6 separate regions of the Homo sapiens genome follow, and all the other regions are linked to region 1. The links come from fine-mapping of genetic effects on gene expression. A gene starts in region 1. Each other region holds a variant in brackets. All regions are shown on one strand. Distances are from middle to middle.

What was found.
Region 2: its variant is fine-mapped to the expression of HPCAL1 in blood mononuclear cells (TOPMed, PIP 0.93).
Region 3: its variant is fine-mapped to the expression of HPCAL1 in whole blood (TOPMed, PIP above 0.99).
Region 4: its variant is fine-mapped to the expression of HPCAL1 in whole blood (TOPMed, PIP above 0.99).
Region 5: its variant is fine-mapped to the expression of HPCAL1 in monocytes (TOPMed, PIP 0.98).
Region 6: its variant is fine-mapped to the expression of HPCAL1 in whole blood (INTERVAL, PIP 0.92).

Annotation. Positions count from the first base shown.
Region 1 is chr2:10,300,513-10,305,444 of GRCh38, forward strand. HPCAL1 (hippocalcin like 1) reads left to right here and starts at 2,392. Exons shown (of 5, transcript NM_002149.4): 1 at 2,392-2,665. LOC101929691 (a long non-coding RNA gene) reads right to left here and starts at 2,205. Exons shown (of 4, transcript XR_922791.3): 1 at 1,066-2,205; 2 at 330-501. RefSeq lists silencers at 1,927-2,706, 2,591-2,788, 3,107-3,286 and an enhancer at 2,967-3,026.
Region 2 is chr2:10,392,000-10,396,931 of GRCh38, forward strand. HPCAL1 (hippocalcin like 1) reads left to right here. Exons shown (of 5, transcript NM_002149.4): 2 at 4,836-4,921. Among named protein-coding and RNA genes, the nearest start is that of SNORA80B, 52 kb to the right of the region's middle. The variant CA/C (reference allele first, on the strand shown) is at 2,132.
Region 3 is chr2:10,406,148-10,411,079 of GRCh38, forward strand. The region is part of intron 2 of HPCAL1 (hippocalcin like 1); the gene reads left to right. It overlaps LOC124905972 (a long non-coding RNA gene), which reads right to left. Exons shown (of 3, transcript XR_007086211.1): 2 at 1,822-1,966; 3 at 1,311-1,698. Among named protein-coding and RNA genes, the nearest start is that of SNORA80B, 38 kb to the right of the region's middle. RefSeq lists enhancers at 1,511-2,710, 1,958-2,569, 2,570-3,182 and a silencer at 3,042-3,171. The variant C/T (reference allele first, on the strand shown) is at 2,740.
Region 4 is chr2:10,330,503-10,335,434 of GRCh38, forward strand. All of the region lies in intron 1 of HPCAL1 (hippocalcin like 1), which reads left to right. Among named protein-coding and RNA genes, the nearest start is that of HPCAL1, 30 kb to the left of the region's middle. RefSeq lists enhancers at 452-551, 1,082-1,281, 1,111-1,698 and a silencer at 662-711. The variant A/T (reference allele first, on the strand shown) is at 1,736.
Region 5 is chr2:10,397,796-10,402,727 of GRCh38, forward strand. The region is part of intron 2 of HPCAL1 (hippocalcin like 1); the gene reads left to right. Among named protein-coding and RNA genes, the nearest start is that of SNORA80B, 47 kb to the right of the region's middle. The variant T/C (reference allele first, on the strand shown) is at 3,006.
Region 6 is chr2:10,366,160-10,371,091 of GRCh38, forward strand. The region is part of intron 1 of HPCAL1 (hippocalcin like 1); the gene reads left to right. Among named protein-coding and RNA genes, the nearest start is that of HPCAL1, 66 kb to the left of the region's middle. RefSeq lists an enhancer at 1,719-2,526 and a silencer at 3,164-3,458. The variant A/G (reference allele first, on the strand shown) is at 2,157.

The sequences.
Region 1 (4,932 bases):
TTAAGATGAGGTCATTAGGGTGTGCCCTAATCCAATAATGACTGTGTCCTTATGAAAAGGGAAAAGAGACAGGTATATAGAGAAGATGTGAATTCACAGGGAGCGCACATGGCCATCCATAAGCCAAGGAATGCATGAGGTTACCAGAAGCTAAGAGACAGACATGAAACAAACTGCCCCCCACATCTCTCCAAAGGGGCCAGCCCTGCCAACACTTTGATCTTGGACTTCCAGCCTCCAGAGCTACAAAACAACACATTTCTGTTGTTTAAGTTGCCCAGTTGGAGGTGCTTGTTACATTAGCCCCAGGAAATTATACAACATCTTACCTGAATTTGCTTTCTTCTTTGCTCTAGTTAAATTCAAAACTACATATTGAATAACGACGGTGTGCTCTCTCTCCATGAAGCTTCGGGGTGGGTAGACAGTCCTCCTCTTGAAGGAACAGGAGGGACGCAAGGGAAGGGACCAACTTGTATCTCATCTGAGAGAGATACACTCCTGGAATAAGAGGTCTGCGGTTAAGTGTGTTTCTCTAGAAGTTCAGAAACAGAGGAAGCATCTGCGGGCTAAGCTGCTGAGGGCTAGGTGAGAGCTAACTGACCTAAGTTTTGAAGGATGGATGGGTGACAGGTTGGAGGGGGAAGATGGAAAAGTCACATGGGAGAGGAACAGCATGGGCCAAGTGTGGAGGAACCAGTGAGTGGGCTGGGTTTCAGAAACAGGCCTTGGTCTGCTTTTGAGCCCTCCCTGAACTTTTCCACCCCAACCCCACCTCCTGCCTGTGTCTGCCATGCACCTCCCTTCCTGTGAGTCTGTGGACAGACTTTGCCCCTTTGCCCTGTGTGTGCTTGGGAGAAATCTGCTCAGTTTCTGTGGCAGGGATGTTTCTACGTGTTCATCAAACCGGCTTTGTTTACTTCCGAAACACTCATGAAGACCACAGCTGCCAGAGCCCCTTGCATCCTGGTGGGACTGTGCGACTACTTCTGGCCCATGGATGTGGGTGGAAGTGACGTGTGCTTCCCCAGGCCTGGCTCCTGGACCCCACCGACGGCTTCTCACCTGTAACCCCACCAGCCTTCTACCTGGATACTTCACGGGGAGCTAGAGTGGCCTTGGCTAAGAAGGAGGCATGGCACCCGCGGGTACCGGGCCGCCTTCATCAGTCGGTGCACTCTGGTCCACCGCCCACATGCCTTCATGTAATCTTCACTGTAGGGCCCACAGGGAGGGGAACTTCCTCGAGGTCTAGCTTTGCCTTTCCGCCTTCAGAGCCAAGTAAGAATGAGGGGTCTGGGCTCGGCCCACCTTCCCTGCAAGGCCCTGTGCCCGCTCCCCTCAAAGCTGGTCTTGCATGTTGCTCTGGCGGCCTCTGTAGCAGGAGTTCACTCTGTTTTCCGTGGAGGAGGAGTGGAAGGAGGGATTCAAGCTCTCCCCTAGAGACGCTAGAAAGACAGTTTTGTCTCAGCCTCATACGATCGCCCAGCTCCACATTTCTGGCTGTTTCTGTGGTTACCTTTCTTCGGGGATGTTTGGGGCGGGAGGTGGGTGTGTGTGTATATTTGCTCTTCTGAAGCCGTTTTTCCGGAGCTCCTGGTGGGGGTGGGGGTGCTCTGTCCCTGGTTCCTCTCGAGGCAGGTGCAGGGGATGGAGGATGCCCCCCTCCCCGAGAGCCAGGAGGCGCCGACCCTGGGCAGGAGGTGCCAGACCGGCGCCTCTCCCGCGTGGAGCTCGAAGACCACAGATGCCTGGAAGGGAGGAGCACCTTCCGTGGTTAGGTGGGGAAACCGAGGCAGAGGCGGCCCAATGGACTCGCCTAAACGGCCTGGGGAGTCACTGCAGGTAACCAGAGCTGGAGCCAGGCTTCCCACTCCAGGCCCGGGGCTCTCCCCCGAACAGGCGTGGGAAGGGGTGCGAGCTGCACGCGGGGCTGGGGCTGGGGGTGCGGGGCTGGGGCAACTCGGCTCTTCCCCTTCCTAGGCCGCCCGGGCCACTTCCTGCGGCGTGGGGGCGGGGGGCGCGGGCGCAGGGCTGGCCCCTCCCGGGCGCCGCCTCTCGGCCTCTTCTATACCAGCAGGCCAGAGGCCAAGGGTTAGGGGAACAGAACCGGTGCCCGGCTCCGCCCCTGTCCCGAAAGCCACTGGGGGCTGGGACCCGGCAGGGCCAGGTTTGGGCCGCGAGGGCCGAGGAGCAGCGAGGTGCAGGGGCTGCGAGGGCCGAGCCGGGCGCTGAGGGTCCGGCAGGGGGCGTGGAGGGGGCGGGGCCCGGAGGGGGCGGGGCCGTAGGAAACTTGAGCGCCCGCCTCTGGCCGCGCGCCCCGCCCCGGCCCCCGCCTCCGGGTCCCGCCTCCAGGTCCCGCCTTCGCGTCCCTTCCTTCCCGGAGCTGGCAGGCGGGCCGCGGCGGCGGCGGGCAGCGGACGGGCGGACTGACGGGCGCCTCCACCTTGCTCCCTCCCTGGCTGCCGGCTTCCTTTTGTCTTTCTGGGCGGCGATGAGCGCAGGGCCGGCGCAGCAGCTGCGGGCGCACGGAGGCCCGCGCTGCTAGTCACTCCTCCCGGCCTCGGCGCGCTTGTCCCGGGCAGCGGCCCGGGCCCGCTGCAGCCGCCGCCGGCGCCGAACTTGGGCTCGGGAAGCCGGCGGACCGCGTCCTGCGCCGGAGCAGGTAGGGAAGGGGCGGGCTGCGGTCTGCTGGCTGCTGAAGTGTGCCCCGGGCGTGTGCACCCGGCGTGTGCACCGGCGAGCGCTGCGATCCGGCTCTTTGCGTGTGTGTTGTGCGCGCGTGTGTGTGTCCGGGAGTGCCCGCGTTTCTCTGCGCGGTGGAGTTGTGGGTGACTGCGGACGGTGGTGTGTCTTTCGAATGGCGTGTACTCGTGGGCATCCATGTGTGCCTTAGGTGTGCACATTTTGGACTGCGTTTGTGGAATTGTGTGTCGGGGCGCAGTTGCTGGTGGGGAGCGGTGCCTGGCGGGTGTCGTGTGTGAGCAGCTGTGCGCAGAGCGGGGTGGCGGGGTGGGTGTGGGTGGTCCAGCCCCACGCCCAGAGCCCCCTGTCCCTGCTGGTCGGCGCAGTGCGTAGCTTAGGAGCCTCGAGGACAGCTGGGACCCGACGGGCAAGGGCGGGCCTCGCGGGCAGGCTGGGCAGCCCTCAGGGAACAGGTCCGTGCGGCCCACGTGGGTCGCCTGTGAGCTTCTGCCAAGGGTGGGGGCCCACGCGGAGGCGATCCGCTCGTTCCTCCCAGGGCCATGGGGCGACGAGGAGAGCCCTGGCCTCCCCGCGACCCGCACTGCGACCTGGGCCAGACGCGCCACCTTCCCCGGTCGCGGTTTGCTTCTCTTTAAAATGAGGACAGCTCCTCCCTTGGGGGCTGTGGTGACAGGTGAAATGAGAACGCACTGAAGACAGCTCTTGGTCCAAAGCCCCGCACACAGTAGGTACTGTGTTAATTGGATTAGCGTCTCCTGTTTAAAATCCTTTTTTTTTCCCCTTTATCGTGGGTGGGGCCTTACATTTTCCCCGGGCGTGTTTTGTGCCTCTCCCTGGCCCTAACTTAACCGCGAAGCACTGAGATTCGAGAAAGTTTAGCTGCCAGCTGCGCTGCCTCCTGCAGCACCTCCCGGGCGGCGCCGCCTCCGCGAGTGCCCGAGAGCGCCGCGCTGGGCGCCGGCCCTGCCCCAGCCCCCAGGCTCCCGCGCAAGCGTGGGGGTCCCTCTCCTGGCCGGGAGGCAGCGACTGCGGAGTTGAGAACCCTTTGGTTCAACAAGTTCCTAGTCCGGGAGGATGCAGCTCAGCTCGTGGAGTCCGAGAGTCACGGCGTAAAATTGGCGCTTCCCGCACATGCAGATCTCGGGCTCCCGGGGTGTCCCGGCCGCCAAAGGCCACCCCTTTCCTCCTGGCTGACCCCAATTCCACCAGAGGAGGATGTTTGCCAGGGACGCCGAGTCCAGCTGCTGGCCTCGGCATTAGACAACCCCCAGCCCCAGCCCCTGCCATCCCTGCTCCCTTGCAGCCAGCCTCATGCCGGGGGTGCCACATGGGACACCTCCTCCTAGTCCCACACCTTAATTTAAAACATTTACTTTTGAAACCTACTAGTCGTAAAATTGAACCGCAGTGAACGAGCACCCAGCTCTTACCACGACTCACTCTCTGGAGAGTTCTGGCGCCTCGGCGCTGGCTCGGACGCAGCAAGGCCAGCTCTAGGGGTCGGGTGGCTCTCGGCCAGAGCGAAGGATATTCTTTCCCTTCATCGCCTTGGTGTCTTTCTCTGGGGGAAAAAAATCGCCTTTAACCAAGGGAGCCAAGATCTCACCAGTGCAGGAGGCTCTCAAAATGGAGCGCCGGCATGGGGTTGGGCTGCGGAGGGGACAGCATGGGCGGCCTTTTGGTATGGATGCGCTTCCCAACTGTCAGGGGCTACGTGATGGTGTTCCCAGAGAGGCGGGCTGCTTTGCGGGCTTTTAGGAGCCAGGGATAGAAACCTGGTCCGGTTCCTTTGGTTTCCCTCGGCCGAGACTGAAGCCCTGCAATCCTAGCCATGGCAGGCCAGGGGGATGCGATGAACTCATTTTCTCATTTTTCATCCTGACTTAGTGACAGGGGCACACTTAGAATGCACCCTGTTTTCTGTTTCATCAAATGATTTTATGTCCTACAAGAAAAAAGGGCTTTTGGTGTGAATCCTACTCTTTCCTCATAATCAGGTTCCATAATAATATTAAAAAAAAAATCAGTCTGGCTTTCTCAGCTCAGAAGACAGACCCAAACCCAGGTTTGTGTTTTGTTTTGTTTTTGTTTTTTTCTAGTTAAAGCCAGCCCTTTGTCTCAAGCAAGCCAGTGTTTTGGCCTTAGATCTATTTCTGTTTCACTTTTGAAAGTGCCTGTAATTACTGAGCTCTTGAGGTTTTATTGGATAATGTGGCAAAGGGAAGG
Region 2 (4,932 bases), 91 kb after region 1:
GGCCTCCCAAATTGCTGGGATTACAGGCATGAGCCACTATGCCAGGCTGTTGTTGTTTTTTAAGACGTGGTCTCGATCTATCCCTCGGGCGGGAGTGCAGTGGCATGACCATAGCTCACTGCAGCCTTGAACTCCTGGGCTCAAGTGATCCTTCTGCCTCAGCCTCCTGAGTAGCTGGGACTACCCCCATGCACCACCATGCCTAGCTTGTTTATTTATTTAGTAGCGATGAGGTCTCACTATGTTGCCCAGGCTGGTCTCGCAGTGCTGGGCTCAAGCGATCCTCCCACCTTGGCCTCCCTTAGGGCTGGGATTACAGGTGCGAGCCACCACACCTGGCCAAGAATTGGTATTCCTTAAATATTTGTAGAATTCAGTAGTGAAGCTATTTGGCCAGGGCTTTTCTTTGTGGATAGTGTTTTGATTACTAATTCAATCTCTTCACGTGTTATAAGTCTTTCAAATTGTCTCTTTCTTGAGACAGTTCTGGTAGTTTGTGTCTTTCTACTTGGCTTAGATTTTGCAGGCCTCCCCTGCTCTTTCAGTCATAGTTGACATTTATTGAGTTCTTTCTATGTACCAAGCATTTGTTGTGCATTAGCTCATTTAATCTTTACAAAAACTTGATGAGCTAGGTAGTACTATTGTCATCTCCATTTTACAAATGCGGGAGTGGAAGCAGGGAGAGGTGAGATAACAGGTCAAGGTCACACTGTTAGGAAATAGGAAACAGTCCAGCTGGGCTTTGATTCCAGACAGTCCAGCCATGCAGCCCCTGGCCTTGCCACCTCCCTCTGCCATTCTCCAGAGACTCGGAGAGGGGCCTAAGGCCTGACATGAACGAAGGGCTGGGGGAGGTGGGGTCGGAAGGGCCCCAGGAAAAGCGTGTGTGTGAAGGGCTCAGACTCCCAGTTGGGGAGTTCGGATGTCCCCTTCTGGGGCTTTCATCTTCTAACCTCCTCTCCCAAGCGCTCAGCCAAAGGGCAGCACAGAGCACCCTACCCTAAGGTGTGACGCCCCAGCTGGCAGGACTTTGGAGCAGTAGATCTGTGCCCAGCAGGTCTGTATGAATCACCCAGGCCTCTGCATTTTGCTTTTCTAGAGGAAGAGGCATGGCAATTTGTAAGACAATCGCCAGACAGAAATCGGGAGCAACCAGACATAACTCAACATAATTATTTCTGCATAATGACTTCTGCTACTTGATTCTGTCTCGAGCAATGACTGTAATCTCTATCTGTCACTGGGAAGCTGGTGGCCAGGGAGCCCCTGTGGCTTAGAGATAGAGCCAGGAGGAAATTTGCAATTCGAGTTAATGGAGTGTTCCCAAGCAGCCTGAGCGCCAATTCCTTCAAGGTCTCCGGAACAGCAGACCCCCTTCCTGCTAGGAAGCCTGGTGTCAGAGCTGGCTGGGCCTCCTCTGCGGAGTCCAGCTCATCCACTTTGTCACAGATGGGGAAACTGGAAATGGCAGAGGTCACAGGATGTGCCCAAGGCACAGGCCAACCTGGAACCAGCACTTCCTCTCCACCCTCCCACCACCCAGCATTTTCCCCTTCAGCTGGCCTGGCTGTGGTGGGACAGAGGAAAGATGCCTCTGTGGAGCTGGTCACTGAGAGTGCTGGCCAGGCAGGGCTGCCCCCAGGAAGCTGGAGACAGTGGGGCCTTTGCAACCAGATAGCGAGGGACCTCAATGTGGAGATAGGGTGTGCTTGCTGAGCGTGCCAGCAGGCTTGTGCTCACCTGCTCCAGCTGGGGGCATGCAGAGGCCCCTCCTACCCCAGGAGGATGCTTATTCACTGCATTCCATGGCCTTTTAAAAATCCCCTTTAGGCCCGGGCGTGGTGGCTCACACCTGTAATCCCAGTACTGAGGGAGGCCAAGGCAGGCAGATGGCTTGAGCCCAGGAATTTGAGACCAGCCTGGGCAATGCAGTGAGATCTCATCTCTACTAAAAATGAAAAAAAAAAAAAAAAAGATTGGGGTGCACCTGTAGTCCCAGTTACTTGGGAGGCTGAGGCTGGAGGATTGCTTGAGCCTGGGAGGTTGAGGCTGCAGTGAGCTTTGATTGTGCCACTGCGCTCCAGCCTGGGTGACAGAGCGAGATCCTGTCTCCTGAAAAACAAACAAA[CA/C]AAAAAAAAACCTTGTAACTAACCAGAGCAGCTGAAAAGAACAGAGCATGGGTTTGGGGATTTGTGTTTTGGGCGCCCCACACCCCATTTAGCCGAGTGTCACCTGAGCTGGTGTCCCGGAGTCTCTTTCCTTCTCCATAAACAGTTGAGAATGAGCTCTCTGCCAGGCCGGTAGGAAGGGGATGATGAAATGAGGACCTGGTACATTCTGCTGCTGGTTCCATTGCTGGGTTTCTCCTCGTGGAGAGCCCTTGACCCTGTCCAGGTCTTGATTTCTCGGAGTGTCAAAGCAGTGCGCACGGAGCTGTGAGATAAATTGGCTGAGATCATCGATTTGAAAACGCCGTGAGAAAATATGGGGCAAGGCAGAGAGCACAGAGGGGCTTTAGGGCAGCGAGCCCGCGCTATGTGATGCTGTAATGGTGGGTGCGCATCGGTACACGTTTGTCAAAGCCCACGGAGTGGCCCACGCCAAGAGGGAACCCTAACGTGAGCTGCGGACCTGGGGGGTGATGATGGTCAGTGCAGGTCCCTCAGTTGTAACAAATGGCCTGCTCTGGCAGGGGATGTGGATCGTGGGGAAGGCTGTGGCCGGGAGTGGTGTAAGGGGTGTGTGGGAACTTTCTGCTCAATTTTGTTGGGAAGACCTAAAAAATAAAATCTTTTATTTTATTTTATTTTTTTGAGACAACATTTCACTGTCACCCAGGCTGGAGTGCAGTGGTGTGATCTCGGCTCACTGCAACCTCAGCCTTCTGGGCCCAGGTGATCTTCCCACCTCAGCCTCCCAGGTAGCTGGGACTACAGGCACGCACCACCACGCATGGCTAATTTTTTGTATTTTTAGTAGAGATGGCATTTCATCATGTTGCCCAGGGTGGTCTCGAACTCCTGGAGTCAAGCAATCCACCTGCCTCAGCTTCCCAGAGTGCTGGGATTACAGGCGTGAACAATGGTGTCCAGCCTAAAATCTATCTTTAAAACACACACACACACACACACACACACACACACACACACACACACACTGCTATCTTAAAAGCATAGGGACCTTGCAGTGAGAATTTCTGGTGGGAAGATGTATGACTTTGTCAGGTCTTGAATTCTAGCAGTGAGTTTACATTCCATAATTGGCCTACAAAATTCTATATTTGGGAAACAGTAGAAATTTAACTCTGAGCAAGATACACCCTATTTCCAATCACACGTGATGCATCTCGGGGGCATTCATTTGTCAAACATTATTTGTTGAGCACCTGCTGTGTCCAGGCTCTGGACGCATAGACGTGAAACGGACGATTTCCTGACCTTGTGGCGCTCACAGTCAGGGGGGTGGGTTGGTGGGTGGGTGGAAGGAGGGGAGAGGTGCAGCACCCCCATTGTGCAGGAGCGAGGGGAGCCCCGCTGGCACGCCGCACTGTGCTGAGGCTGGGTGTTCTAGGGTGAACAAGCCACTTCGTCTAGTGGGTGCTTGTAAAGCGGGATCGTTGCTATGAGAGAGAGAACCTTGCGTTGGGAGAAAGTAATTAGGGAGTGTGCGGTAGATGCGGAAGAGAAACGGGCCGTCAGGTGAAGTGACTGTCAGGATTCCATCCTGGCTCGGCCCCTTGGAAGACACATGATCTTGCAGGTAATTAGCTCCTGTAAGCCTCCATTTTTCCCCGTCTGTCAAATGGGGATGATGATTGTGCCTGCCTCCCAGGGCTGCTGTGTGGATTACGTTGGATAATGAGTACAAATGCATAGACAGCCTTTAGCAAGGAGCCTGGTTGTATAGAGCTGTCGGCCTCAACACTGTTAATACACATATGTACCAGAGGCTGCAGGTTCACGGAGGAGGAGTCACCAATCCATGCCCGGGGAGCAGGCAGAGAAGAGGGAGGCGGGCCCGTCCCGAGTTCACGCCACGTGAAAGGTGCTTGGAACGCTTGTGCCAGAGCTGGCAGTGAGGGTTGAGGGTGGGAGTGGCCGAGCACCTAGACACCCGCAATGCAAATTTTCCTTCTCAGTCTCTGGATGGTTTTCTGAGCTGAGCTGCGGGCTGAATGTCAGGTGATGCGTCCTGACCTCTTCCTGAGCACCTAGTGTGTGCCCTGTGCTGGGCCCAGGAGGCATGCTGGGGGCAATGTGGGCCTCAAGGAGGAGGTCGGGTGATGAGGGGCCAACCCAGGTATGCCAGTCAAGAAACCGTGGAGGCTGGAGAGACCCTGAAGGGAGCAGGGCACAGTCGTGGGTGGCAGGCCTGGGTGTGCCTGATTCCACTGAACCCTCGTAACAGCCCTGGGTGCAGAGTGTAGAGTGCTGGGTGAGGACGGAGGCTGTGCGTCTGTGATGGCCCCAGGTGACAATGCTGTTGGGATTTGAACCTGAGTTTGTGGACCACAGAGGTCCCGGCCACACTTAGTTTCCATGCCAGTTTTGTAGTAACCAGCAACCTCACTCGAAGGGTGGCCAGCATCTTACCTTGGGGCTTCTATCAACGTTGTCCTGGGCTTCTCGCCTGCTGGGGTGCAGCGGCCTTGGGCATGTGCCCCTGTCCATGGTGGCTGGCCGGAGGCCGGGAGCCAGGGCTTTCTGTATGTAGCATGGCACTTGCAAAAACTGTGATCCCCCAGCAGGCACCACAGAAGCAACCAGAGGGAGGGGCATGGGCTCCGGGCCGGGTCGTCACAGCCTGCGTGACCTGTCGCTCTTCTCTTCCAGGGGCATGGTCTAGTGGCCCAGTCAGGACGCGGAAACACTCCCTGGAGGTTCTGACCCACTCCCTCTCAGCCTCCGCCTGGTCTCTGGTAAGTCACTC
Region 3 (4,932 bases), 110 kb after region 1:
AAACTGGAAGAGTCTTTTGTGGCATGTGGGGATTCCTCGTCGTGCAGGGCTTGAGTGCCACAGGACCCAGTGCTCGCTGTCCCCATGCCCTGGCACACACTGTTCCCTTTGTCCCAGCTGGAGAACTCCTGGAACCTTTAAGCCCTGGCTCAGCCCTCAGCTCTGTCCCATCCCAGCTGACCTCTGTGCTCTGCGCCCGAGCTCCTGAGCCCACGTAAGTCTCTTCATGCCCATCACTGCTGTTTCATGGGCGTGTGTGGGGGGTCACTTCAAGGAGCCCCAGGAAGGGTCTGTGTCTTGTCCATCCACGTGTGACTACACCCAGCATGGAACAGGACTCGGGAACCACTGAGGTGTGGGTGAAGGAACCAGTCCAGAGACTCCACTCTCACTTCAGCCTGATGTTTCTGGGGTCTGTCACTGAAAACCCCAACTTCGCCTTCAAAGCGAGATCCTGGGTGGGGGCAGAGGAAGTCCCAGGCTCTGTGGCCAGGACTCCACACCCAGATTTCCACCGGGCTCGCTCTAGCCTGGCCCTGGCACGGGTGCTGCGTGGCTCTGCTCCCCGCCTGGCATCCGGCACCCTTCACCTCTGTAGAAACACGGAACTGTCACAGGGACAGACGTACATGGGTCGGGGGTTGCTTTCAGAAAGTCTATGGTCTCATTTTGGTCCTGCCTTTGAGCTTCCTTTTCCTGCTGGGTTAGGGTTCCGGACGGAAGGGGAGCATTCTCTTGGGCGTTTCCCTTTTCCTGTCTCCCTGTTCTCTCCCCAGAGGCTCATGTATGTCCGTTTCACTCACCTCCCTTTCTCTGCTTGGGAGGCAGCTCAAAGAGCTCCTCTCCAAAGACTCAAGCTGGAGTGATGTTCGCTCTATGATGACGCCGCACTGGTCCAGGGAATGATCTCACTGGAGAGTAGCAGGAAGTCCCCCATCCTGTCCCCCACCCCACTGGCTGAGGACCATATAGCTGGGATGTGTTCACCTGGGAAGGAGATTGGCACCAGTTTGATAAATGGACACCCCCAAGTCTGGCATGGCCCCAAAACTCTACTCTGCTGCAGCTGTTTCCATGCCAGAAAACAGAGATTTCCAGAATACCGAGTCTGAATGTGCCTTCTTGGAGCAGCTTCAAATCTGAGCAGGAGAGCACTTGACCATCCTAACCCCTGACCTTCCTCCAGCAATTCCTAAAACTGGAAGAGTCACAGAATGTTAGAATAAGAGGGATCCTAGAAAAAGAACCACTCACTCATTGCTTTGTTCATTTGCTCAGGCACTGTGCTAGGCGCTTGGAATACACAACCATTCATTCAAACATATTTATTGACTGAATTGTGTGCCAGGCCCTGTTTTGGGCCCTGTGGGGGTACAGTGGTGAACAAAAGGAGGCAGACAGTCAAGAGATTTTGTAAATATAGTGCCAGGTGGCAGGAAATGCTGAGAAAGGGGTCAGGGTGAGGGACCAGAGGGTGAGGGTGGATGCTCTTTGAGGTGGGTCCTTGGAGGAGGTTTCCCCACGACTGTTGAGCAAGAACATGAACTTGGAGGGAGTGAGCCTTGCAGACACTGAGGGGAAGGAAGAGCAGACAGGTGGAGGGAACTGCAGGTGCGAAGGCCCTGAGGCTGGAACACGCTGAGCAGCTTCTCTGACTGGGACAAATGAAGGATTCTCCTTCCCCCAGGAGCTCCCAGTCTAATGAAGGAAAAAGACAAAGAAGTGACGCGTTCAAAGCTGAGTTCATACTAGAAAAACGCTGTTAGAATTCAAAGGGAAGAGCAGTTGTAGGGGCTGGGAAAGGCAAGCCTGAGGAGTGACCTTTGCATTGGGCTTTGGTGGATGAGTAGGGGTTGGCAGGGTGGCTGAGGCGAGCGTGCCACACGGGTGAACTCATATCTGCAGAGGCACAAGGTGTGCAGGGACAGCCACCCACACATTCCTCTTCCTGTCGCAGTAGCAGCTTCTGCAAGAGAAAGTACAGCTCTTGGGGATTTCCCTTTTCCTTTCTCCACCTCTTCCTTCTCACCAGCTTCATTTAGGGCATTTCAGCCTTGAGAGGGTGGAAAAGAAGGAGAGATTGGTAGAGGAAGGGGATTTCTGTGCCCTGCTGGGTCTCTCTCTCTCTCTCTTCTCATATGTTATGTTTTTCTTGTAAGGTTTTGGGGAGTTGTGGGGAGTTTAAGAGGCTGGGGATGGGTAAGAAGTCAAGAAGGTTTCGGTTGGATTTCTCAACAACAGGTCATTGGCCTGGAGCCCCTCCAGTGGGTAAAATGCCGTGATGCAACAGCTTTCAGGAAGGCCTCCAGAAATGAGCTCTAGGTCAGTGGGTTGGGTTTAGGTGCAGGCACGCCCTGGAACTGTCACTCTAGAGGTGTTACTAACCTCCTCTTTCCCCGGATCTGACTCAGCAGGGTTGGCTGTTCCAGCTCCAAAGAGAAGGAGGAACCTTTTCCTTCTGCAGCCCCTCCCCACCAGCCTCATTCCTTAGCTGGGGTCAGACCTGGGGTCCTCACTGCAGCTGGCCTCTGGCAGCGTTCTCAGGCTAGCCCTCCCTGCTGAAAAGAGAACCGTGTGGGACTCACAGGTAATTATGAAATACAAACGCCATGATCTTTCACTCAAGGGCACTAAGGAGTGAATAAATAAAGGATACCACAGGGTGCTAATGAGCTTGAAGAGTCCCTGTTTGGTAGCCCCAGATCCAGGGTCCCTGGTATCACCCACTGAATGCTACTT[C/T]TACCCAGCACTGCCCACGGGAAATAAAGTGGGAGACACATACCTATGTGATTGTAACTTTTTCTATAGCCGCATTGAAAAGTAAAAAAGATGAAATTTAAAACTTGTTTGATTTAAACCGTTAGATCCCAAATGGTATCATTTACCATTTCACATGTAATCAAGAAAGAGAAAGTATTAATGAGATATTTTATGTTGTTTTTTTTCATATGAAGTCGTCAAAATCCGGCGTGTATTTTACACTAAGGGCACATATATGAGTTCAGACTGGCGACGGTTTATGTGCTCAGTAGCCACGTGTGGCTGGTTGTGACCATAGTGGACAAAGCAGCCCTAGCTTATAGGTGGAGACACGGAGGCACCTGAGAGGGGCGGGGTCTCAGCTCAGGCCCTGGGAGCCTGTTCAACAGCTCCCTCTAGCGTCGGCCCAGCCACACTTCAGCCTGGATGGTCCCAGATGCATCGGCTCCTCCCTGCACCTGGGTCCTGGCAGCCGGCACAGCCTCCCCGCAATCACCCAGGGGCAAAACGGGCCCCTCCTTGGAGAACTACCGGGAAGCTAAGGCTGCAGGCAGCTTGACTGTCACTTGCTTATTTGGAGGAAAGAAGGACACAGGCCCGAGTTGTTTTGAAAAATGCAATCAGCCCTAGGAGAGGGGCTTAGCTGCAGGGGCCGTGTGGGTCCAGCGGTCACCGGGAGAAAGAACTGGGTTGGGTGCTGGATAAGAAAGAGCACAAACCTGTTTGTCTTCCACCGGCCCCTTCTGCCTTCCACCTTCCTGTTCCACCCCAGGAAGAACAAGCTCTCATCTCAAATGGCCTGAGCCCTCTGATTCCTTGAAGTTCAAATTCACAACAAACGCCTCTCCAGCCTCTTCCTGAGCCTCAGTCTTTTTTTTTTTTTTTTTTTTTTTTTTTTTTGAGACAGAGTCTCGCTCTGTTGCCCAGGCTGGAGTGCAGTGGCACCACCTCAGCTCACTGCAACCTCCACCCTCCGGGTTCAAGCAATTCTCCCGTCTCAACCTCCCGAGTAGCTGGGACTACCAGGTGCGTGCCACCGCACCCAGCTAATTTTTTATATTTTTAGTAGGGACGGTTTCACCATGTTGCTCAGGCTGGTCTTGAACTCCTGAGCTCAGACAATCCACTGCCTTGGCCTCCTGAAGTGCTGGGATGACAGGTGTGAGCCACGGCGCCCCGGCCAGCCTGGGTCTCTCATAAGCATTTGGTGTTTCCCACCTCTCTGGTCGCCTTCCCTCAAAGCATCTCAGAGTCTGGTTGGCCTGGCAAGCTTCGGGGATCTGACTGATGAAAGCATTTTGGAGCAATGGGATGAGATGCCAACCAATGCCGTCAGCCGGCACTGAGGTGGGATTAACAGGACAATCAAGCCCTCGGTTCCCAGGAGCCTCACTGAGCAGCTGCTAGAACTGTGCCACTAAACAGGCTTTAATTTACAGGCAATACCGACTCTGGGTTAACTATTTCTCACAGGGCTCCCCAGCTGCATGTTTACATTTCTTTCCTTGTTCCTCTTTTTCTTCTTCTTCTTTTTTTTTTTTTTTTTTTTTTTTTACAATTCAGCAGATTAAGAACAATAGCAGGGTAACTGAGAACCACAGAGGTGGCTGTAAGTGACTCATTAACTCCCTCTCCCATGTTTCCATCACCGTGAATTACAACGTCATCTCTGATGCCCTCAGACAGCTGTTACTAGTTTGATCCGAGCCTTGCTTGAATATGAATCTTTTTAAGCCGAGCAGGAGATGGTTCTGCTCTCAAATAGACTGCCCTCCCCTGGGCCTCCCATTTCTTACCCCACCATCCTCCTTGGAGATGAAAGACTTCCTGAGAAATGAAGGCTGGGTTTGCCTAATTACTGGAGCAAGGTGGCTGTTCTGCTGGGAAACGTGAGTGGTGGCTTTCTGTCTCTGCAGAAAGGCTTGCTTTTGCTCGGTCGTCTTACTAGACAGCCAAGCACCAATAAGGTTGGCTCCTTTGCTTAATGAATGACAGAGGGGTCACAGCAGCATGCAGCATTCCCCCCGCCCCCCGTTTCTTGTGAGGCAGCCTGCGTCGGGCCCGACAGCCTCCAGGAGAGAGCTAAAATGAGGTCCTTCAGATTACATATTTCATCTGGGCCCTTGTTAATAAGCAAATGCTGGCTGTCCCAGTGAGTGACTGGGAGTGTGT
Region 4 (4,932 bases), 30 kb after region 1:
TGATGTCTGAGACAGGGTGGCGGCAGGGTTGGTGTCACCCGAGGCCTCTCTCCTCGGCTCCGTGTAGCCCTTTCTCCCTCTGTTCTCACACGGCCATCCCTCCGAGTGTGTCTGAGTCCCAGTCTCCTTGTGAGGACACCAGCCCTAGATCAGGAGCCACGCAGTGACCTCATTTTACCTTCATGACCTCTTCAAAGTCCCTGTGTCCAAATACAGTCACATCTGGAGGTAGTAAGGATTGGGGCTTCCACATAGGGGTTTTGTGGGGGACACACTCAGTCCACGTTAACTCACTTCCTGCCCACGGCAGGGGCTCTCTGTCAGTGTGTCTCCGACTGCGGACCCCGATCATCTTTGTGAGAATGCAGGTTCCCAGGCCCACACCGTGCTGGTTGAGTCAGAGCTTCTGGGTGCAGCCTGGGGGTGCAGCAAGCCCACCCCTGCATTCGGAGAGCCTTAGCGGGAAGCCTGTTGCTTGTGCCTCCTTTGCAGCCCCGGCCTCTCCAGTTCTCTGTGTCTTGCCATCTTGGCTTCTTCCTCATCCCGCCTCTCGCTCCATCTCGTGGCCTCCCATCTGCTCTCCCGGCTGCAGGAGCGGTTTCTCTAAGCCTTGCAAGTGACCGCACCCTCTTACTGCATGCGGGCCTTGCCAAGAGCCTGCAGAGGGCGGGGCGGGCTCTGGGGACAGCCTGGACTCTCCTGCCTGCCCCCAGGTGCCCCCGGCCCAGCCACAGGGTGCTGGCTGCCTGTTACTCAGCACGTCCGCCTCTCCTGCCTCCTGAGCCCACAGGCGCCCTTCCTGTCACCCGAGCGCCCTCTCCTTCCTCACCTCGCCACCTACGCATCGTCACCCCTCCTCCTGCGTTTCCTCCTGTCTCCCCGGGGAGCTCGGAGTTCTGCAGGCACGGGGCTGGCTCCTTTCTTCATGTCCCTTGTCCCACAGGACACCGTTTCTGAACCCAGGAGACACTCAGGAAACCTTGCTGGTGGAACGGATGCAGCAGCGAGGTTTTCCGGGGCAGGAACACCCTCCCAGGAGCTTTTCCACGGCCAAGCGCTGGCTGGTGGTGGAGCTGCGCTGAAGTCAGTGTGTGCTTTGGGCCCAGCTGCACTGTGCCCGGGGTCCAGGGATGGGTGTGAGGCTGTCTGCCCCCCACTGCACGCCCGGCTGTCAGAGGCATCTGTCTCTTCCCCCGCATGCATCTTTCTCCCCGTCTGGCATGGTGTTTCTAGTCTTTTGTGGATGGGGACATAAACAAGCCGCCATCAACTGCTTGGTGACATTGGCCAATCCTGTGGTGGCCCCAGCTGGGCTTGCTGCCTGTGTGTGGTGAGGGTGCCCTTCTTGTCACCCGTTGTCATTTACGAGACAGCCCTGTGTCACCTGTTGATTCAGAGGGAGCTCTCCTCATCACCTGTTGTCATTTATGAGCCCCGTGTCACCTGTTGTTGCTTCACAGGGAGCACTCCTTGTCACCTATTGTCATTTATGAGCCCCGTGTCACCTGTTGTTGCTTCACAGGGAGCACTCCTTGTCACCCATTGTCATTTATGAGCCCTGTGTCACTTGTTGCTTCAGAGGGAGCGCTCCTTGTCACCCGTTGTCAGGTGTACTCACTTTGCTTCTCCCTTCCTGCTTTTGGGGACGATCACAGGACAGTGGCTTCAGAGGGGAAGTACCTCGACCTGGCTGAGGTCATGCCCAGAGCCTGACTGCTCTCTCCACCCACCCATG[A/T]TCCCGTCAGCTTCTTCCCCCTCCTTCTCCATCTGATCTGAGCATTTACCATTTCCTTCCATTTAAGCTTCATTTGAGTTGCATCATGATGTTCTCCTTTTTTCAAAGTTCCATCTGCCCACAGGTTTCCATTTTCTCTAGAACCCTCCTCCTTCCTCTCTAGCCCCTGGCCCGCCCCTCTGCGGTTCTCAGGAAGCCCCTCGGTGCCCCCTGCCCCTTATCTAGAACAGCTTCTGCCTAGGGTGGGCAAGGCAGGGTGGGAGGTGGGGGGTAGCCGTGCAGGGAAGGGGTGAAGCGGGCCCCTGTACTCCCTAGCTGGGCTGCAGGCTTGGAGGAAAATAAGAGTCAGACGCTTGTTAAAACAGTGAGGACAGCTTTATTCGAGGAAAATGCAGTCGGGGTTGACCTTATCAGCAGGGGAGAGATCAGCCCAACTCCTAATACAGCAAGGAAGGGACAGAGCTGGGAAGTGGAGTGGGCTGGGTGAGTGGAAAGTAGCTGCGAGAAGACATCACAGGTAGGGGGATTCTTGCCAAAGGCAGGGGGGGACTTTGATGTCAAAGGTGGGGATGAGGACTGATTGGATCTCAAGGGTGGTCAGATGTGAAGGGCGTGAGAGGCTCACTAAACTGACTAAGCAGGATTCTTGCTGAGACTGGGCCAGGCAGGCTGAAGACAGGAGGCAGAAAGAGGGCTCAGAGGAGCCTGAGTGAAGTTTGATCTTGGGGTGAGGGGTGCAGGGGGGAGGGGCAGGGTGGGTCTTTGTTGGGGCTCTGTGGGAGATTTCAGGGCTCACTGGATGTGTGGGGCACAGTGGGCCCTGCCTGAGCCCCATGACGCCTGGACGCTGCCACCAGGGGCCTGACCTGCTGACGATCTCTGCACTGGGTCTTTAATCAGCCTCTTGGGCATTGTAAATGCTAGACAAAGATTCTTCTCTTTTTAAAGTTTACTAATTTCCCTACGATAAAACTAATGCATTTTCACAGGAGAGACTCGGGAAATTACCAAGGAGCGTGAATCAGGTGGTCACAGTGAATTGTGGATGTTTGTGTCTGTCTTGGGGAACTGGTGTAACGTTTCTCCATCTGACCCCTGCTGTCTGTTGGAGGTCAAGGAGCCAGCCTGGCCTCACAACTTCCTCCTTTCAGCAAAGTCAGGAGGCCATTCCCTCCAGGGATGGGTGGGCTGCAGCCTCTTGGCACCTCTCGGGATCCTGCTGGCAGATGTATCACCGTAGCCCAAGCCAGCCTAAGCCAGCCTCCTGTGGCCCAGCACCTTCTCTTCCCACGTGGGCAGCTGTGTTCCCAGGCAAACCTTCCTGGAATTGCTCTGTGCTCTCAGAGCTGGTGTGCTTTGGTGTTCAGCTGTGGCCATTTTGGCTTTGAGTTTGATTTGATTTTTGAAGAAAGTTTTTATTTCTTTACCCAAATATTCTATGTCTCTTTGGTAAGACTGGAAAACACAGAAAAACAGAGAAAAAAATTCCCCCATAACTACCCTGCCCACCTCCATATAACTTTTATTAGCATTCTGAGCTATACCCCTCCAGACTCATTTCTGCCTCTCCAGAAGTGTGCATAAAGTCTAGAAACATAGGTGAAGAGACCTAATGCCATCAAGAACATCAACCTGTAAAGGAATAAAATAATGTCATCTGTGTCCAGATTTTACAGATGCTTTGTAGATATGTGTAACAGAAATGTGGGTATGTTTTAGCAAAAATAAGACCATATTTTTGTTTTATTTTGATTGATTGTACTATAAATTCCAGTAGAGCATTACAGAGCCAGCCCAAGCCCATCTCTCCTCTTCTCTACTCTTTTCTTTCCCCAGTGACCAATAGCCACTCTGCGGAGGGAAGTAGGGATCATATTTGTGCGCGTTTTACGCTCTTGCTACACATGTGCGTAACCTTAAACAAAACATTAGTTTTTATGTGTTAGAAATACTCATAAATGGTGGCCCAGGCATGGTGGCTCACGCCTGTAATCCCAGCTCTTCGGGAGGCTGAGGCAGGAGGAGGCTTGAGGCCTGGAATTCAAGACCAGCCTGGGCAACATAGCAAGACCCTGTTTTGTTTTGTTTTGTTTTTTAAACAAACAAAAAAACCAACAACAGTTAGGTGGGTGCAGCATCATGTACCTGTAGTCCCAGCTCTTCAGGAGGCTGAGGTGGGAGGCTCTCCTGAGCCCAGGAGTTTGGGGTGATAGTGAGCTGTGGTCACACCACTGTACTCCAGCCTGGATGATGGAGTGGAGTGAGACCTTGTCTTTAAAAAAAAAGAAAAGAAAACAGAAAGAAATACTCATAAATGGTATATATATATATCACTTTGTAATTTGTTCTTGACTACTTTGTCAACAATTTTTAAGCTGTATCCATGTTGATACATAGATGTGGTTCATGGTCTTCTTTTTTCTCCTTTTTGTTAACTGCTGTATACAATTCCATTGACTTTTTTTTGAGGCAGGGTCTCGCTCTGTTACCCAGGCTGGAGTGCAGTGGCACGATCTCGGCTCATTGCAACTTCCACCTCCCAGGCTCAAGCAATCTTCCCACCTCAGCCTCCCAAGTAGCTAGGACTACAGGTACATGCCTGGCTAATTTTTGTATTTTTTATAGAGTCAGGGTTTTGCCAAGTTGCCCAGCCTGGTCTTGAACTCCTGAGCGCAAGTGAGCCACCTGCCTTGGCCTCCCAAATTGCTGGGATTACAGGCGTGAGCCACTGTGCCAGCCCCCATTGTCTAAATAAGCCATCGTTTCTCTAGTCATATACAGTTAGGTCACTTCCATTTTTTCATTAGTATAAAGAGTGCCATATGAATATTGATCCTCCTTGAGTGCTGTGGAAGGAAGCCTCTAAGATGCCGCCACTGGTCCCCACATCCTGGTCTTCACACCCTTGTGTAATCCCTTCCCTCGGGTGTTGGCTGGACTTAACTGACTTGATTCTAACAAATAGAACACAGCAGGAGGAATGGGACATCACTTCTGACATCAGGTTATAAAAAGACTGCAGCTGCCAGCTTGGGTGTTCTCTGTTGCCCTCTTGGATTGCCAGCCCTGGAGGGAGCCAGATGCCATGTCTCAAGGCAGTCCTGTGGAGAGGCAGGCCTAGGTGACAAGGGACCAAGGCCTGCCAACAGCCATGTGAGTGAGCTTGGAAGCAGATCTCCATCCGCTCCCCACTCCCA
Region 5 (4,932 bases), 97 kb after region 1:
CTGTGGGGCTGCCCTTCCAGCGTTGAGGGTTTGGTTTTGTTTGTAAGCAAGGAACCAGGTATGCGATGCTGGAGAGTGTGTAATTCTGGCTGTGCCTCTTCACAGCCCCTTCCAATCTCGTGCATATTAAGGTTGATAAAAACACCCTCTTCAGGGTCAATGCGAGATCAGACCTGGAGTGAAGTGTCCCTGTGGTATCTGGACCAGCAGGACCTGGCTGCCCCACAGCTCCTCCTCTCTCTCCCTCCTCCCTCTCATGGTCTCATGACTATTATGGTGACTCTTGTCACTCACCACCCTGCCCCACCTGCTCCTGCATACTGTGAGCATCAGTTGGGGCCATGGATGTAGCAAGGGTCAGCTGTCATAGGCTCCCGGGGGGACACCTGGGGGAGGGACATTTGGGGACAGAGCCCCATCTGGCCATGCCCAGCCCCTGAGAGCCCTCATCACCGACTTGCATCTGGTGAGTTTGGCAGGGTCCTGTATAAGGATTAAAGTCCTCCAAGTCCTCATACAAAGTCGCTTTCCAAAAGTCTGGAATTTTCTTGGCCCTAGACACGGGAGATGCTCTTTATAATTTTCATCTTCCCACTCAGAAGGAACCACCTTTGAATACTCAGCCAGGCTAAAATTTGGACCCAAAACCTGTTAAAGCATCACTGTCTTAATTTCAGTGTTCATGATGGGGTTCTGGGCTGTGTGAGGGGTGGAGGGCAGATACCAGTGGCAGGTTTCATCTGTGGCCCTGGTAGATGTGAGTCCCGCAGCCGGTCAGCCCAGGGCCCAGGGCAGACCCCGGGCGTGGCTGCTTTCCCGCTGGGCACCAACGCACGCACGTGGTGTTTCCAGGGCAAAGTGAGCTCCCCACCCTCTGCCCGTCCCCTGCCCCGCCCTTAGATCTGCATCCCGTGGGTGGGGTGGGTTTTCCTGCCTTCCTCTTCCTGAGGGAGGCGATTTCTCCTTCCGCTTTCTCCTTGCCACAGTAGCTGCTGGGTTGGGAGGAGACATCCAGGCTGGGGCCTCAGCCTCAGGGTGCCAGTTAGCGTGTGGTTAGCTGAGAAAAAAGTATTTTTCTCAGCAGAAAATAGACACAACTGCATGTGAAGGGGCCACTTCCACTCCTTCATTCTCCATCCACCAGCCTTACTGGAGCTAGAGAGTGGGGGAACATCTGGGTCCGTGTTACCTGGATGTCACCTGCATACAAATGTCCTGGCCCGAGGCCACTGTCAGCACGGGTGCACAGGGGAGGCGCCTGGCCCGGCAGGTCGTGCTGAGGCTGATACCCGTGTCAAGAAGCTGGAGCAGGCGAAGAGATCAGAAGAGGGTAGAGGAGGTGGTCCGAGGTGTCCATTCCCATCCCCAGACCCCTGGGGCATTTCAGTGCACGCACAGCAAATAATATCACTGCACCACCACCACCACCACCACCACCACCACCATCACCACCACCACCACCACCATCACCACCACCACCACCATCACCACCACCACCACCATCACCACCACCACCACCACCACCACCATCACCACCACCACCACCACCACCACCATCACCACCACTACCATCATCACCACCACCACCACCACCACCACCATCACCACCACCACCACCACCACCACCATCACCACCACCACCACCATCACCATCACCACCACCACCACCATCACCATCATCACCACCATCACCGCCACCATCACCATCACCACCACCGCCGCCACCACCGCCACTGCCACCGCCACCATCACCGCCACCACTACCGCCACCGCCACCACCACCGCCACCGCCACCGCCACCACCACCACCACGAGTTGAGGGACTCTGGGATCAGAAGGCACTTTCCAGCACATTCACACCATTGGCCGTGGATGTTGTGGGTCAGGTGATGGGCACTGGAAGGGCCTTCCGCTTCTCTCTGCCCCTGGCCCTTGGTCATGTACAGCAGGCCGCTCCCCGGGCAGTGGAGAAGCAGCACCTGCATACTAAGGCTCGAGTCCCAGCCTCCCCTACCAGCCTCCCTCTCCACGTCCCCAGACACTCATGCGTTCCTTCCCTTGAGGTGGGTTCATGGAGCACGTACCCTGTGTCAGACAAGCTTCCAGGCTCTGGGCTTCTGATGGAGAACAGACCAGAGTAAACCTGGCCCCAAGGACCTTGAGCTCCACTCAAGGGGAGACAGACAGTGAACTCAACAAAACAGAAATGAGAGAAAGGATCAAGCTGGAAAGGGGATAAAGAATGAGTGTCGGTTTTGGATAGAGTGCTTGGGGAAGGCCTTCCTGAGATGAGACCTGACCAAAGGCCTGCAGGAGGTCAGGGACGGGCGTGCTTCTAGCTAAGGAGCAGCTGGTGCAAAGGGCCTGTGGCAGACGTGCACCCGTGGCAAGGAGGGGGCGAGCAGGCGGCTCAGCCAGGTCGGAGTGGGTCACACCTGAGGGGCAGGACGCTGGCAACCCCGACCGCTGAGGAAGACAGGTGCGAGCAGCATCTCGGCACAGCCAGACCCCCACCATACGGCAGCCCTCTGTGTCCCTTAAATAAGGATGCCTCCTCCCAGGCTTAAGAGATCATTGTTGCTCATAGTGATTTGTGTAGCCAACAATTCTTCTGGAAGAAGTTAGATGAACAGGGCCATGGAGATTTGGGGCCGGAAGAGCAGGACCCCAGGCTTGCCTCCCCTCTAGTGCTGGCCAGGCCGTGGATCCCAGGCGGGCATCTCAGAGAGCCATCTGAGCGGCCTTTCTGGAAGTGCCCTCCTAGGCAGACGCTGGTCATGAGGCAGGGCAGCGGGGAAGGGACAATCCTCCTGTGTTGTACATTGAGGGTTATATTTAGGGTGACTTGGGATGACTTGGCAGTATCACTTCCTGTGGTCGTCCCCTCCAGCCCTCAGCCACGGAGGGCAGATCCTGTCTGACAAGCATTGTGGGCAGACACGTGCCTGCACACACGTACACACCCACATGCACACATACACACACGCACACACATACACACATTG[T/C]GGGCAGGCACAACTTGGCATTCTCATCTGCCCTGGAATTGGTGGAGGGCTGGGGACATTGTCCTGGCCCTTCTGCAGGACCGCCAGGTGCCTGGCGGGGGAATCCTAGCCGTCAGCATCTCCGGAGCATCTGCTCCATGTCGGGCTCTGTGTGAAGGGCTGCATCCAGATCCCACATGAGCAAGACCGGCCTAGCCTCCCCATCTGGTTGGGAGATGCCAGGCAGAGGTGGAAGGAAGGGCGGCTGACCTGCCCCTTAGTCTGCTCAGCCACACAGGCAGCCACAGCCGAGGCTGCACAAGGACACTCCCCTGACCTTGCTGCCTGCTGGCCCCGGGTCTCCAGGCCAGGTCCGAGCCAGCCAGGCTCCTCCCCACCCATGTCACCGGCCTCTCTAGGTGGAGTCCACAGTGATCTTTGCTCCCCTTCCCCAGGCATCCAGCACCACACCAGGCACAGGGCCTGGTATTTCTGGGACAGCCCAGATTACACGTTTTCTCTCAGTTACCCCCTAGAATATTCTTGGACTTCTCAGACCCCATGTGCAAATTTTTAGCTTAGAAGTAATCACTGGGATCATAGACGATGTTTAGCAAATATCTGTTCTTTTGGGTGTTCCTAGGCCCCCAGAGGGTCTCCGGGAAACTGGCTCTTTTGCTGAGGCTAGAGACTATCTGGGCTAGAATGTGTCTGATGGGGCTCTCGGAGGGTGCACAGACAGTGCCGCGGTGGCCGAAGATCCACTATTCCAAGGCCGGATCTGCAGAGGATTTGGAAGTTGTCTGTAAGGAGCGCCTAGATCACCCGGACCTTCTCTCTCCCTCCTTGACTTCCTTCCTGCCTCTCGTCAAACAATTACTGTGTGCTTCCTGTGTTCTAGGCGCTGTGCTAATAATTGGTTATGGGATTATTCCTAGCCACACCCTGGGTAAATGGAACCCAGCTCTCTGTCCTTGGGAAAAGGGTCAGGAGAGAACTGGGGCCCAGCTGGGAAGCTGGAGGCTTGAGGCTGCTGGTCCATGTTGGAATGCTGTCTCCCTCTGCCATCCAGCACCCAAGCCCGGCGCCAGGCTCAGAGCAGGAACTGAAGCTTTTGCTGTTGTTGTTGTTTTTGTTTTTTGAGACAGTCTCGCTGTGTCTCCCAGGCTGGAGTGCAGTGGTGTGATCTCAGCTCACTGCAAGCTCCGCCTCCTGGGTTCAAGCGATTCTCTGCCTCAGCCTCCTGAGTAGCTGGGATTACAGGCGCGCACCACCACGCCCGGCTAATTTTTGTATTTTGAGTAGAGACGGGGTTTCACCATCTTGGCCAGGCTGGTCTTGAACTCCTGACCTCAGGTAATCTGCCCGCCTCGGCCTCCCAAAGTGCTGGGATTGCAGGCATGAGTCACCGCACCCGGCCAGGAACTGAACCTTGGTAGGAGAAGGAAAGAAGGAGTTCCTGTCTTGCTTTCCCGACCAGACTGGAAGCGCTCTGAGGGCGTTTTACACTTCGGTGTCTTCCCAGCACTTAGCATTGTGGCCTGCATGTAAGGGGTGTTCCGTGACTGCGTGTTGATTACACTTTGTGTGTATGGGTGGGTGCGTTGCCACAACTCTCCCTGCAGAATCTGTGGCCTCTGGTGCTGTGATTTAAAGACTAAAGATGGCAAAGAGTGGCTTTTATGAGCTGCCCCACTCCTGATTATAAACACACTCTCTATGAGTCAGAGGCCTGGGTGATCATGGATAAGTCACTTGCCAACAGTTAACTCCAGACTGTAGCTGCTGGGGCCACCGAGGGCGGCTGGAACATCACCATTCTGTGCCTAGCGTTTCAGCCGGGCTGAGGCCATTTTATTAATAATGATTTATTGTTTTTATTGCTTCCCAGAGATATTAAACATGAATCAAATAATGCATGTGATGATTCACTGGAGGTTCCCTTCCA
Region 6 (4,932 bases), 66 kb after region 1:
CCAGGGCTCAAGGTCAGTGGGTGTGTCTTTGGGTCCCTTAAGGAGCAAAGTCTCATAATTTGCTTTATTTTGTTTTATTATTATTAATTTTTTTTGAGACAGTTCTCGCTCTGTCGCCCAGGCTGGAGTGCAGTGGTGCGATCTCGTCTCACTGCAACCTCTGCCTCCCGGGTTCAAGCGATTCTTGTGCCTCAGCCTCCTGAGTATCTGGGACTACAGGCACCCGCCACCACACCCAGCTAATTTTTGTATTTTTGGTAGAGACGGGGTTTCACCATGTTGGCCATGCTGGTCTCGAACTCCTGACCTCAGGGGATCCACCTGCCTTGGCCTCCCAAAGTGCTGAGATTACAGGCGTGAGCCACCACGCCTGGCCCCTTAATTTACTTTAAATAAAGATCTGGTTCTCCCAGATGAGGTTCACAGACAGATGTTCCAAGAGCACATCTGTCTGGCATCAGGAGACTCACCCATACCAAGCTCACAGTGCTGGCCATGATCCGACTCCCGCCCTGCAGCTCAAGCTTGGTCTGGAGACCTTCTCTGGCACCTGCCCCGGCTCCCCAGCCCCGGGCTTCCTGCATTGTGTGCTTCCACTCCCGTCTTCTCCACTAGGAGCTCTGTGGTACGGGCTTTCTGCACCTTGACCTCTGGGCCTCCCACCACAGCACGGTGAAGGCACCAACTATTTCACTGCTAGATCCAAGGATGCTGGGGCCGGGGGCAGCTCTGAGTGTGTCTCATACAGTGACCTTGTTTGAGGAGGCTGTGTAGGCCCAGGATTTTCCTGGGGTGAGGGACGCCAGGTTCCTTGATGTGTTGGGACAAAGACGTTGGCTGGGCGAGGAGGCTGCCTGAGATCCCACAGTGAGGCTGGCCCTGCCCTTGCTCGCCCAGCTGATCTGACACCCTCCAGATGGCCCAAGAGAGACCGGGAGGAGCATCTGGTGGAGGACCTGGGTGTTCTGTCTGGAGATTTCCCATTGCTTTTCCAGTTTATTGTCATCTGCTTGGGACTTGAGGGTAACTTCATCTCTCAAAATAGGCTGAGACTTTTTACAGTTAGATATTTAATATACAGATGACGGGCGGATGGTAGTGTTGTTTTAAGGGGGGATTTTGTTGCTGTCGTTGTTGTTGTTGTTTTGAGACAGAGTCTTGCTCTGTCACCCAGGCTAGAGTGCGAGCTCGATCATAGCTCACTGCAACCTCAAACTCCCAGGCTCAAGTGATCCTCCCACCTCAGCATCCTGAATAGCTGGGACTACAGGTGTGCGCCACCACGCATGGCTAATTTTTTGTAGAGATGGGATGTTGCCATGTTACCCAGACTGGTCTTAAACTCCTGGGCTCAACTAAAATTTTAATCTCCAATTCATACATTTCAGAAAGTATAATAATATGTAAAGCAAAATCATAATAGCAACAACAATCACTGTCATCCCACGGGTTGGTTTAGATGTAAATTTTATGCTTCCTTGCAAAAATTTGTCGAAAGTGCCAGAAAAGCCCTTGTCCCATATCACAGTCCCATGACCCACACTCCCATGGAAAGCCTTAGAACTGATGTCAGTGTGAGCCCTGTGCTGGAGTGGAGGGTGACAGAGCTTCGGACATGAGCAGCCTCTGCTGCTGCGGCCACCCTCGCCGGCCCTGGATCCCCACACAGTGTGGGGTGTTCAGGATTCCTCATGTGACCCTTACCCTGCCTGCCCTGGGACTGTGTGCCTGTGTGCTTGCATGTGTGTATGTGCGTGTGTGCCCATATGCGTGTGTAGGTGTGTGCATATGTGTATATAGGTGTGTGCATGTGTGTATATACCTGTGTAGGTGTGTATGTGTGTACATGTGCATTGTAGATGTGTGTGCATATGGTGACCTCAGTTCCAAAGCTTTCCATGTGTGTGTCCATACACATGTGTAGGTGTGTGCCTGTGTGTGCATATGCGCATACACATGTATAGGTGTGTGCATGTGTGCACACGTGCATGTGTAGGTGTGTGTGTGCATTGTGTGTAGGTTTGTGCATGTGTGTGCATACGTGTGTGTAGGGGTGTGCGTGTGTACACATATGCATGTGTGTGTGTGCATTGTGTGTAGGTTTGTGCATGTGTGTGCATACGTGTGTGTAGGTGTGCATGTGTGTGCACATATGC[A/G]CGTGTGGGTGTGTGTGCAGTGTGTGTAGGTTTGTGTGTGTGTGTGCATATGTGTGTGTAGGTGTGTGTGCGTGTCAGCATATGTGTGTCTGCATTCACTCGGCCAGAGCTCCTTGAGGGCAGGGTGGTTCCCACCTCTCTGTTCCCCCAGCTCCCAGCTCCGGCCTGGCTTTTAATCACAGAGTAAGTCAAGCCTGCTTTGGGAGCCTTCTGACTCCCCCAGACACACTGAGTACTCTTTCCTCGAGCTCAGTGCAGTTCGTCCACATTTTCCCAGCAGCACGCCTCCTGCAGCGTTGTCAATATTTATTTGCTGTTGCTGTTGCCTCCCTCCTGGACCGCCCATTCCCCAGGCCCTGTCTGGTGGTGGCCGCCCTTGGGGAGCTGGCCTCTCAGCACAGCGCCGGGCACCGGGGCTCAAGGTCAGTGGGTGTGTGTTTGGGCTTGAACTGATGTGTGTGTTTACTGAGCTTTCTCCGCAGCCTGCTCCGGCAGCTCCAAAATGGCATTTCAGGAATTGAATTACCGACATTTCAGTACTTGCGGAATCCAGGAATAGATTATTTGATTGTATCTGTTGGAAGTCATTGCCGTAACTGGCTTCGTTTTCTTCACCAACATCTAAACCGAGTGGGGAGGGACCGCAGGAGAATGCTGTGGTGACTTGATTTTCCCAAAAGCACATCTCCCAAGCTGGCGGCAGCCGATGGCGTTGCCCTGTGACTGGGGGAAGCCTGAGGACTCACGGTCGCCTCAGGCTGGCCACCTTCGCACTGGAACCTGCCCATCACATCAAGGAGCCCTCTCAGGCTGAAAACCCTGTGCCGGGGTGGCTGCAGCAACACAAGGATTCCCCTCCAGCTCTGTGATGTGGGGAGCAGAGGGCCACTGAGTCCTGCCATGTGAGTCACATGATGCCCGTGGCCTGATTTCTGTGCCCCCATCTTGCCTCTTAGAGTTTGTTGACCTCAGGGCTCACATATCCCTTGTAAGGGGTTGTGATGGCTTCCACGGCCATCATGGCTAGTTAGGATTTTCCTCCAGCCCTTGAGGAATTCTCTCGGGATTTTTTCTGGCCTTGCCTGTCTGCAGAATCCATAGAGGACCTACAGGAATGTCTGCCTCTGAGTCCATAGTACTTGCAGGCCTGGGAGGCTGGATCAAGGTGGATGTTGACACTTGGTGGGGCCGGAGCCCTGGCTTCCTGGCTGCCTCATAGCTCAGGCCCGTTTGACAGCATTTGTGAGCACCTGTCCCAGGCAGGAGCAAGTTCAACAGCAGCAAGGGCTCCAGGCAGAGGGAGGTGGGCTCTGATGGGACTCAGGGGCAGCCTAAATGTAGCAGAGAACTGAGAGGGGATCCCTGAGGCCTTCTTGGAGGAGGTGGTGGTTAAGCCAGCTAACTTTGTCCATTGGAAACTGTCACCAGGTCCTTATTAATCAAATAATAATGAATATGCCGTGTTCGGATCCACTAGGGAAAGCTGAAATTGAGCTCAAAGGAGGCATAGAAGTTCAGCTTGTAATTTTGAAAAAGGAAAAGGCTCTGGCCTCATTAGGCTGCCCCCAGTGTGTCCTTGAGACCTCCTTACTCCTTGAAATGTGCTTCTTAACGTTTTGGAAAAAACAACTTTCTCCTTCTATACTTAGCCCTTATCTCAATGTGCAGGCGCCTACCTGGCCCACTTATCTTCAAGAAATGTGCTGGGTTAGGCCTCAGGAGTGGCAGGCACATAGATACTGTATTTGGCCTTGGCCTTCTGCCCAAGTGGAGTCTCCGCATTCCTTTGTATGGGCCCATTGGGCATGCCTGGCTAATCTGCGCACCCTCTTTCCACTCTCCTTCCTGCATTTCTCCTTCCCTTCAGTAGTGGCTCCCTTCCCATTCCCCAAATCGCCTCTGCTTTTATCTTCTTCCAATCGAATTCCCGTCAGTCGTGGAGCAGGTGGGACACCTGTGTATGTTGCGGGGGCACAGAGAAGCAGCCTGTGCTCACCCATGCCTGCCTGCAGGTGCATGCTTGGGACTTGGCAGTGGGGGAAGATTTTGGGGTTAGGATTTCCAGGCTGGCTTGACACTGACCTGTTTTGTTCCAACCCATACAAGCCCTAAACCCTCATGTGCAGATCCTGCTGGCTCTCTGGGGAACACTTAGTTGGATGCAGGTAGGAAGAGGCTTCAAGGAGCAGAGGAGGGGCTGGCTGAGGGCCAGCCACTTTGTCTGGTCCCCAGAGCGGGGTCTAACATGTGGGAACTGAGCAGCAACTGTGAGCTAGCCCTCAGGCAAGGCTGCCCCATGATGCCAGGGCACATAGGGCAGACTCCAGATGATGGGGCCACTGCTGGCATTGGCCTTTTGCAGGGCACAGGAGTCTGCCAGGGGTGTGTTTTGGAGCCACCCATACAGGTGTACCAGCTTTTGGAAAATCCCAAAGATGTGGTGCCCTGCTCCTGGGGGTCTTGGGGGCTCCCAGGTAGCAACAGCGTTCTGGGAGGACGTGGGCTCAAATTCCAACTTTTCTACCAGGTTTTGGCTATCCTTCATCCCCGTGGGGCTCAGTTTCCTCATCTCCAAGCTAAGGGGGCCCACCTAAAGTTGTCACAGAATTGGACGTGTGACGGGGCAGCCCCCTTCACCTGTGGGATCCGAGGCAGAGCTGGCACCTCCAGGCTGTGGGTCCAGTGACCCGGCATGGAGCCAGCAAACAGAGGAGGCACCTCCAGGCTGCAGGGTCCAGTGACCTGGCATGGAGCAAACAGAGGAGGCCAGTGGGCA